Regions from separate parts of the Homo sapiens genome. Here region 1 is linked to region 2. A link means that fine-mapping ties the variant in region 2 to the expression of a gene that starts in the linked region. Tissue or cell type: tibial nerve. Region 2 holds a variant in brackets; the other region holds the start of a gene. All regions are shown on one strand. Distances are between the middles of the regions.

Region 1 (5,000 bases), 48 kb after region 2:
GGTAAAGGTTGGATTGTTGTCGTTGACATCCAGGACAGTCACGCTGACACTGGCCGAGGCAGTGAGTGCTGGAGTGCCATGGTCTCGAGCTTCTACCCCAAAGCTGTAGAAATCAACTTCCTCCCGGTCCAGTTCAGCAGCCACAGAGATCCAGCCTGTGCCATTGTTGATGGTGAAGGGGAAGTCATGTCCCACCCCAGCAAGGCGGTATTCCAGGCGGGCATTGTCACCAGCATCAGCGTCGATAGCCTGGACATGGAGAACCAGGTAGCCTAAGGGGACACTCTCCAGGACAGTAGCCTGGAAAGGGGTGCTGACGAAGATGGGGGCATTGTCGTTGATATCCAGGACCTGTACTGTCACCAAGCCAGAGACATTAGAGAGTGGGGGACGGCCACCATCCTGTGCTCGCACCCGTAGGGTGTACTCCTTGGTCGTCTCATAGTCAAGAGGGCTCACCACATCCAGAGCTCCAGTCTGGGCATCCAGATAAAACTGTCCCCGAGCATTGCCACTCATGATGCTATAGTGCACCACGGCATTGCTCCCCTTGTCTCGATCCGAGGCTGTGACTCGGAGTACTGGGGCCCCTGGAGTCACATCCTCCCTCACCTGGACCACATAGCGCTTCTCACTAAACTGGGGGGCATTATCATTGTCATCCTCCACAGAAAGGAAAACAGCGGCTGTGGTACTCCGAGGACCCGGGTCCCGACCCTGGTCACTTGCCTCTACCGTCAGCTGGTAGGATTCCACCTCTTCCCGATCCACAGGGCCACGGGTTCGGATCACCCCAGAGCGAGGGTCGATCTCAAAGACTTCAGAGGGGCTGCCCCCAGACCCCTCCAGCAGGCGGTACAGAATATTGGCATTGGGAGGGGCATCACCATCCGTGGCCCTGACAGTGAGCACCTCATAGCCAACCTCCAGGTTCTCCCTGAGGCTCTCCTTGTACTCCTGCTGCTCGAACACAGGGTCATGGTCATTGGTGTCAGTAACCAAGATGGTGAGTGTAGCCAGGGCACTTCGTCGGGGCATGCCGTGGTCCTGCGCCGTGACCCTGAAGACGTGGGTGCTCTTGGTCTCACGATCCAGCTCCTCGGCTGTGGTTACTGCACCAGTGACTGGGTCCAGGGAGAAGAACTGGTTGGAGCGGCTATCAAAGAGGGCATCCATGGTGTACTCCAGTCGACCTGCCTCACCCTCGTCCGGGTCGATGGCCCTCAGGGATGCAACAGGGGTGCCTGCTGGCTGGTTCTCCGGCACTGTGGCCTGGTAGCTGGGGGGCTGGAACTGGGGGGCTGTATTTACATTCCTTTTCCGACGCCCACCCAGGGACTCTTCTGGTGACCTTTCCCCTGCCCTGAGCCCGGGGGCCTGTGCCAGCTTGCAGGACTGGCATCTGAGCCGTGGAGCCTTTAAGCACGGGTGCTCCTCGGGCAGTGTGAGCTTGCCCTGTGGGGAAAGGTGGCCTCCAATGCCCAGGAGGCGACAGCTCCAGGGGCAGCCTTCAGGAGCTGGTGGTAGGGGAATATGGGCCTCGGATTCTGGACACCAAACCCTCAGGCCATCGTGGTGGGGTACCAGGTGGCCAGTCAGCTCAGTGCCCGCATCCCTGCAGCGGCTGGTGTAGAGCCAGAGGTTCGACGCTGAGGATGGACAGAGCCAGCCCATGGGGGCGCAGGCCCCCGAAGAGCCTCGTCCCCTGGACCCCAAGGAACGACAGGGCCCCACTTGGTCTCCCAATAGTGGCGGCGGCAGCAGCAGCAGCAACAGCAGCAGCAGCGGCGGCGGCGGCGTTGGGAGGGGGACGCCGGTGGCCGGGCTCCGCATCTCTCCCAGCTCCCGGCCGGCGGCCGGGTCAACGGCGGCGGCGGCTCCTCCTCCGGCTCCTGCCGGCCCCGCCGCGCCTCATGCCCGGGCCAGGGCGCCAGTCCCCGGGGGCCTCCCGTGCGCCCCGCGGGGCCTGCGTCTGGATGGCTCGGCGGGACCCCGCGCTGCACCCTCCGACGAGCCCGGGCTCCCACTGCCCCCTGAGCCAGACCCGCTCCCGGGTCACCCTGAGCACCGCGGGCTGCCGCCGCGCCTCCACCTGCGCTCCGGGCACTCACCACCTGCGCCCGGGGGCCCCGCGGCGCCCCTGGCCTTGCCGGGCCCCGGGTTCCGGAGCCGGGGTGCCCCCTCCGCCCCTATGGGATCGCCCACCTGCGCCCGCGTAGCCGTGCGCCCCGACCCCGGCCCGGCCCCGGCGGCCCCCGACGGTCCCGCGCCGCCCGCTCGCGCCCCGCGTCCCCGCCGCGGCTGCTGCCTGTCGCCGCGGCCCCGGGCCCAGCCCCGCGCTCCCTCGCCTCCCCGGCGGGCGGGCGAGCTCTGCAGAGTCGCGGCGGCGGCTCATTACCATAGACCTGCTCGCGCCGCGGCCGCCTTAAAGCGGCAACGCCGGCCGCGCTGGAGGAGGTGGGCCCCACCCAGAGCACTCCTCCGCCCAAAGCGCCAGGATTCCCTCCAGCAGGACCCTCCATCCCAATTTCCCCAGGCCGGCCTCGCCAGATGCCCGGTGCGAATTAGCGATCGGAAGCCACACAGCCGATGATAATCATGGTGGAAGTACCCTAAGTATGCCTAGAGGTTTCCAAAACATTTTAAGGGCTCTCAGAGGCCAAGTTTCCAGTTCATTCCAGTCATAAAAGCCCTCGTTGCTGTCCCCTCCCATAGGTCAGACAGAGTTAAAAGGGCCCTGAGCAACACAACAAAGCCTCCAAAATCCCAGAGAAGCACCCACAATGAGTCACCGGGCCCACTCGCTCCCTACCGTCCCCTCCACCCCACCAGCGAGGCTGTTGTCTGACCAGCATGCCCCTTGGGGTCGGGCTGTTGGAAGAATGACCCCAGCCTCATGTTGGACACCACTTGGGCTTTTCCAGGGAAGTAAATTAGAAGGGTCAGAGTGGGTGGAAGCCAGGTGGTGCAAACACACTGTCACCAGATTCGGAGGCCGGCTGCGGTGGAGCCTAGCTTTAACACAGGCTTCCTGGATTCTAGACAAGGGGCTTACACTGCCCCCTGAGGTCCTGTCTAGAGAGGCGGCCTCTCATCCCCTCCTGCCTCCCTGTCCATGTCCTGCGGCTACCCCCTCCTTCCGCCACAGTTTTGTGACCAGCGAGGAGGCCTACCTGGTACCCGGGCTCCTGACCCTCTCCAAGGCAGCTTCATTTGAGAGGGTGTGCAGGATTCCAGGGGTTCTCCAAGAGGACCAGACATGAAGCTGGACCACACGGAGAGCCAGGCAGGAGCCGTGCAGGCGACCCAGAAAAGGCTTCCCTACATCCTGGAGCAGCCAGGGGCCCAGTCAGGTAGTCCCTGGGGGGATGCCCTGGCCTGGGGGGATGCCTGGGCCTGGGTCCCAGCCTCCAACACCACAGCTATGTGACCTTGCTCAAATTCTGTGCCTCAATGTCCCTTTTTGTAAAATGAGGGGATTGAATAAGGTGAATGGTTCTCAAATGTTTATTTAGCAGTAGAATTCTTTTCTTCAAAAGAAATCTGAAGTGGAAGGCCAGAATATAGAACAGATGAGTAGTGCTGCTGGGTTGAAGTGAGGGGGTCAGGGCCTTGCCCCTCTCCACCACTCCCCCAACCAAGAAATCCCTGGGCTGCTCTGTGCAACTTGAGGGTCTGGAGGAACCCATCTGAAAAGCACTGGATCAGGTGCTCCCTTCTACCACTGCCCCCGGTCACAGTGGTGCCACTCTCACTGGGTCACAGCAGAGGATCCCCCAGCCCCAGGCCCAAGGAGTGTCTGTGTGACCACACAGTGAGGCCAAGGATGAGAAATCAGCTTTTCTCTTTTCCCCTGGGGAAACAGGAAAGGAGATGGGCCTTGGGTACAGCAAGAAAGATTAGGGTTAGACTGTGCTCCTGGCAGGATGGATAGAAGTAGGAGGAGGACCCATGGCTCAAGGAAATGCCCTCCCCTTTGACCAAACAGGAGCTTTCTTCCTCTGAGCAAGGCCAAGGGCAGCTCTGGAGATGGAGGCGTGGGTTACACGCCTCCGCAGGGCTCTGCCTCTCTAGACTTCCTCAGACTCTGGAGTTTGGAAGGATCTAGGGGCTGCGTGGGCATTTTGTTCTTCACCTAATAGCCATGTGGTGCAGAGAATGCTTGGAAATTATACCATCTGTTAATTATCCTTTGAATTGGGGTTGGGTAATGAGACTCTCATTTCTGGTGAAGGCCCAAGCCAACCCGTGGAGAAGCTGCAACTCTCCATTCATCTCGCTCCCTTTGTTGCTAAAATAAGCTTTCTGGGTGGGAGGAAAGAGTAGCCCTGGCTCTGGATCACGGAAGGTGGTTCTGGGGCCTTGCACCTTGAGGCAGGGGTTGCCAGGGAAGGCATGAGCTCAGAAGCCCCTTCCAGGTGGGTGGCCTTTCCACCCAAAGGCAGATAGGTTGGGGGATCCAAGGAACCCTTTCCTTCATCCCCAAGCACATTTGGCAAATAGTCCTTAATCCTCCCCAGTCCTCCCTCCGGGGGCACAGGACAGAGCTCTCTCCCCATCACTTCCTCAGATACTTCCAACTCCCAAAAGCAGGAGGGAAATTTCCAAGTTTCATATGCATCACTGAGAGTCTCAAATGAGGGAGGGGTTGCCCTGGTGGAGGCCTCCCTGATCCCCAGGGAAGGGCTGCCTGCTTCATGGAGCTTTCCAGTTGTAAGGAACCTATGGACCTCCCTCCTGTGTGTAAGGGACATTTAGGCCTCCCTTCTGCATAGCTTTTAGGTGCTATCAAGGGGCAGCAAGGGCTTGGGGTCTGTTAAAAGAGAATTTATTGTTCTTCTAGTCCAAACCTCCCACTTCACAGTGGAGGCTCTGGGAAGGAAGGAAACCTGCTTGGCTAGCCTTGCGGCTGTCCTTTAGCTCTGGTGGGATTTCCTTACTCAGGTTGCTTCCTGAGGACCCCCTGGATAAGGCATGGCCCTGGCTTTCAACACAACAGG
Region 2 (5,259 bases):
CAGGGAGGACGGGCACTCAGGCCCATCAAGTCCCCTCGTCACATATTCCTGAGGTGCAGTCTAAGACAGGCACAGCCCAGGTGAAAACATAAGCCACACAGCACAGAAGGAAACTGCAGAAACCAAACGGACCGTGTGCACTGTACATTGCCATTGATCTTCATTTGCAAAGGTCTCGCGACCTTGAGATTATCATGGGGAGACTCAGAGTGAAGTTCTCTGGACAATGCTTGCTGATTGAGCTGGAGGAAGGACACAGAAGAAGCTCTGTTTCAGTTGCGTCACTTACATGTTTGTGTTATGTAATGTATGTATTTAAACAGTTCATCTATAAGTAAACATACATATGTCATAGTGAATGCTCAGGGAAGTATTTTCACAGAAGTGTGTGCTATCAAAGAGTCTGGAATCCACTATCGAGCAGTCATGCTGTTTGCCACAGGAATGTACCAGGGGTGAAGTTCTTCCAACTGCCAAGAATGAACTGTGGCAAGAATCCTGGGTTGTTGGGAACTGAAGCACTATCACATTCTACTGAAGATAATATCAGCCAGGCGACTGCCTGTGCCTGAGAAAGGAGGAGACAGCAGCCAGGAAAAGGCCAGAAAATGGTGTCTGTCTCAGCCAGGCCCCCGAGGGAACGCAGGTGGAATGTTTGTGCTTCGGCAGCTGAGACAGTGTGAGGCATCCCAAGAGGAGAGAAATGATACCTGGTCAATCTCCAAACCTACACTCAGCACTTTTCCAAGCATTTCCTGTCTTCATCCTGGAAGCCCATACACATCATCTAATCTCTACTTCTCACTGGGACAGACCTGTGAGATCAAAGGGAAATGAGTGGTGGACCTAATCTGTCCCAGAATCTGTACAAAATGATCCTCTGCAAACTGGAAGAAGACTGTGCAGGCGCCCGGGAGCAGAGTGGCCATGCAGAGGAAGGGACCCAGACACGTGCTCTGTCTGCAGTGACATCAGTGTTGTCTCCGTGGGCGGCTGGGAGGTCAGGGTGTTGACTCTGCCTGCAGAATGGAGAGCATTCTCCTGAGACCCACACCTAACTGGGAGGTCAGGATTGACATGGAAAGTGGCCTTGATAAAAGGAATGGTATTAAGGACAAATGTAGAAAAGGGTGGAAAGACAAACCACACAGACCAGGCTGGTCTGTACACAAACAGAAAAATAAAAATGCCTCCATCAGGATGGAATGCCTCCAGATGATGGAAAGTCAGTACTTGAGAGTTACAAATTAAGAGAACTGTCAGACTCGCACTCCAGTGTTCCTTCTGCTGAGACTTTAATGTTTCCCGGGGTGTTCCTTAAGCCAACCCCTCATCCCCAAATCCCAGCAGGATGATGGGAGCACTCTTCCCCTCCCCTCTAAGAAGGGCTTAATTTGGTGACCGATTCCTGGGCCACTCACCCACAGCAGGCAGCTGGATGCAGGATTTACTTTCTCTGAGTATCCATCTCCTATTCTCTCTCTTTCCATCACTCAGAGCACCCCAAGATCTGGCTACCTCGGGCCCTGAGGCAGACCTACATCCGGAAGGTTGGGGACACAGTGAACCTACTAATCCCATTCCAGGTGATCATGCCAGCCCCATACTGGGTCCATGTCTGGGGCCAGTGCAGGTTTTGGATTTGGAAACAGATACCAAGAGTCCTGCTAGCAGAGGGGCAATCTTCCCAGCCTTGGATAGAAGGGGTCACACCACCAGAAGTCTGAGGCCAAATGACCTCTGCACTCCTGAAGGTGGGTTTGGATAGGACTGGGTGTGCACCCATGAGATGGTGTGAGGCTAATCCATGCCCTTCAGTCTACAGAAGCCTCAGAGCTTGCAGTTAGAAGGGTTCTTGGGAGTTTGAGTGGCTATTCAATTGGTCCCAGCTGCCCCGGGTGTTCATGACCTAAGCTCTCAGAGATTGGGAGACTCAAAGCCATCCCTCTTTCCCAAGATCCTTAGGCTGTTGCTGAAAGGAGGAGGCCCCCGGGAGGGTCCACCAACTTCTAACTCAAGGAATGTGCAGCTCCAAGTCAAGCCTCCCTGTGGACCTGGGGTGGACAGGACCCCTACAGCAGCAGGGAGAGTCAGGAAGCCTCTCGGGGCTGCTCAAAGCATTACCCTCATTCCTCAGGGCAAGCCCAAACCTCAAGCCATCTGGACACATGATGGCTGTGCCTTGGACACCAGGCGTGTGAGTGTGCGGAATGGGGAGCAAGACTCCATCCTCTTCATCCGAGAAGCCCAACGTGCTGACTCAGGTCGCTACCAACTCCGCGTGCAGCTGGGTGGGCTGGAGGCCACCGCCACCATTGACATCCTGGTGATTGGTACGGTGGGGGAAGTGGGAGATGGGGGGGTCCTCAGGAACTCCCTCTCCAGGCTGAAGAGGAGCCAGCTCAGAGAGCTGGGGAAGCTGCGGCAAGGCTCCCACGTCATGTCTGGGACACAGGGTGGGCGCAGGAGGGGTAACTGAGGAGAAAAAGGGGCTAGGGCACTCCTGAAGTGACTTCAATGCATGTGGGATGTTCCACGCCCACTGCCATGGCTTTGCCCTTTCAGAGAGGCCAGGCCCTCCTCAGAGTATTAAGCTGGTGGACGTTTGGGGCTTCAGCGCTACACTGGAATGGACACC[G/T]CCCCAAGATACGGGGAATACAGCACTTCTGGGATACACGGTGCAGAAGGCTGACACAAAATCCGGGGTGAGGCCAGCTGGGAAGGAAGGAGGGTGGAAGAGGGCATGTTGGGACAGGCCTCTGGTAGCTCCACATGGGGTGGCTGATTTCTGGCATCATGTTCGGCCCCGCAGCTGTGGTTCACGGTGCTGGAGCACTATCACCGCACCAGCTGCATCGTCTCTGACCTCATCATCGGCAACTCCTATGCCTTCCGTGTCTTTGCTGAAAACCAGTGCGGACTCAGTGAAACAGCCCCCATCACTACGGACCTCGCCCACATCCAGAAAGCAGGTAAGGGAGGCATGGGGATCATGAGCTGGGAAGACTTAAGGATAGGCCGGGCACAGTGGCTCACGCCTCTAATTCCAGCACTTTGGGAGGCCAAGGCAGGCGGATCACCTGAGGTCAGGAGTTCAAGACCAGCCTGGACAACATGGTGAAACCTCATCTCTACTAAAAATACAAAAATTAGCCAGGCATGGTGGTGCACGCCTGTACTCCCAGCTACTCAGGAGGCTAAGGCAGGAGAATTGCTTGAACTTGGGAGTTGGAGGTTGCAGTGAGCTGAGATCGTGCCACTGCACTCCAGCCTGGGCAATAGAGTGAGACTCCACCTCAAAAAAAAAAAAAAATACTAAGGATAAAGAGTCGACGAGGGCTGGGATCTCAGAAGCTACATGCCAGCCCCTCTTGGTGCCCTCAGCTACTGTTTACAAGACCAAGGGGTTTGCCCAACGAGACTTCTCTGAAGCCCCAAAGTTTACCCAGCCTCTGGCCGACTGCACTACAGTCACCGGCTATAATACCCAGCTCTTCTGCTGTGTCCGCGCCTCTCCCCGGGTGAGTGGGGGCTCTGGGGGGCACTGTGCTGAGCTGCTTCTTGTTCCTGCCTGTCCTAACCTAAGCTGAGTTGCAGAGCACTGTAACATAACATCTGTTACCATCACCGCCATCTGCCTCTTCTACAGCACGGTATTTAGGAACAGTCGGGGGGGTGCTTGGAGTCCAAGACGGACTGATGAGAATGACATTTCCTTTTGAATGTTTGTTTCTCATATATGGAGGTGTTGCTTACTGACCTGCTGGCAATTAGGCATGCGCCTCAAGTTGTTTCTGTGGTAGGAGTGACAGAGTCCCTGTGGTTTCTCCTTCCCATGCATACCTCATCCCATCAGGGCCGTGCACATGCAACCTGCCTAGAGTTCAGCCTTTTGCCACAACCCTGAGCAAGGCTCTCTGTCTATTTACAATCTAGTCATCATGCTCCACACACAGCAGAAAACACCATTAACAACCTGTACCAAGAATCTTTTGGGTTTTGAGTCTGGGCAAGACTACATGGAGATAACATCTCAGAAGGGGCATATCAAGAGCCCACTCTAGAAGCTACTCTCTAACCAGAGGGGACAGAGGCAACTCACAAGTCAGCAGTGGGAACAGAATATGGATGGTTCACAAGAGGTGAGCCTGATGCTCAGTGCTTCTGATCCATAAAGGGGCTGCCTGAGAGCCCGGAACGGAAGTTAGCAGTTTTCTTCCAGTCAGAAATATTGGTAAAGAAAATGAAGTTTCAGGTGCTGTTTTCAAACAAGAGAAGGAGCTTGGGGGACTGCTGGTGGCACTGGAAGGGGAAACCCTTCCCACAACATAAGGAACAGGGAGCCTTCCAGAAAGCCATTATCTCTATATAGACAGAGTCCCAGAAACTGAGCACAGAAAGACTATTGGTTCTTACCCTCGCCCCTCCTTGCTGCCTCCCTCATCTTTGTCTTCCAGCCCAAGATCATCTGGCTGAAGAACAAGATGGATATCCAAGGCAACCCTAAGTACAGAGCCCTGACTCACCTGGGAATCTGCTCCCTAGAGATCCGCAAGCCGGGTCCCTTTGATGGAGGCATCTATACCTGCAAGGCGGTGAACCCCCTAGGGGAGGCATCTGTGGACTGTCGGGTGGATGTGAAAGGTAAGGGCAAGAGGAGAACTAGTGCCTTAGGGTGCCAGTCACCTCCTCTCTCCACCGGTGGAAGAGTCAGGGAACAGAGACGCAAGCCTAGGGGGAGAAGGGGTTCCTCCGCTGGACTCTTTCATCACTGTCATCATCAGGATGTATTGGAGGAGACATTTTAATTATCTACTATCTCATTTCTCTCCATCACAATTCAATAATATAGGAAGAATTCTTATTTCCATTTTGCAAATGAGAAGACGAAAGTACAGGGAGGGAACTGGTTTGCCCAAGATTCCCAGTGTCAGTTAGTTGATCACCTGGCACTGGTGGAAATAGCCCAGGTCTCCGGGTCCTCGCTCAGCTCATTTTTCTTTATGCTGTGCAATCTTCTGACTCAGCCTAGGAAAGCTGCAACTGTTTGTCAGGCTTTATTTCACTTCCCCTCCGGTTTATTTATAGGTAATATTGCATATCCTCTCTACTTCCTTAAAGTATTTAATCACTTATCTATACCTGTCACCTTGTTCAGATCTCTATCATTGTGTTTAACATACTGTTTTATAATTATCTATTTATAGATATGTTTCCCTATTAAATTATAAGCATTTTGAGGGTAGGGACATTGTCTTA

Evidence for each region. PIP is the estimated chance that this variant, and not a neighbour inherited with it, causes the effect.
Region 1: it holds the start of CELSR2, and the variant in region 2 is fine-mapped to the expression of CELSR2 in tibial nerve (GTEx, PIP 0.99).

The regions. Positions count from the first base shown.
Region 1 is chr1:109,246,913-109,251,912 of GRCh38, reverse strand. It overlaps CELSR2 (cadherin EGF LAG seven-pass G-type receptor 2), which reads right to left and starts at 2,374. Exons shown (of 34, transcript NM_001408.3): 1 at 1-2,374. The coding sequence starts at 1,833. RefSeq lists silencers at 727-917, 2,016-2,115, 2,276-2,335 and an enhancer at 2,337-3,057.
Region 2 is chr1:109,294,496-109,299,754 of GRCh38, reverse strand. MYBPHL (myosin binding protein H like) reads left to right here. Exons shown (of 9, transcript NM_001010985.3): 2 at 1,498-1,586; 3 at 2,138-2,333; 4 at 2,566-2,705; 5 at 2,813-2,972; 6 at 3,385-3,521; 7 at 4,458-4,644. Among named protein-coding and RNA genes, the nearest start is that of MYBPHL, 9.9 kb to the left of the region's middle. RefSeq lists an enhancer at 2,490-3,061. The variant G/T (reference allele first, on the strand shown) is at 2,639.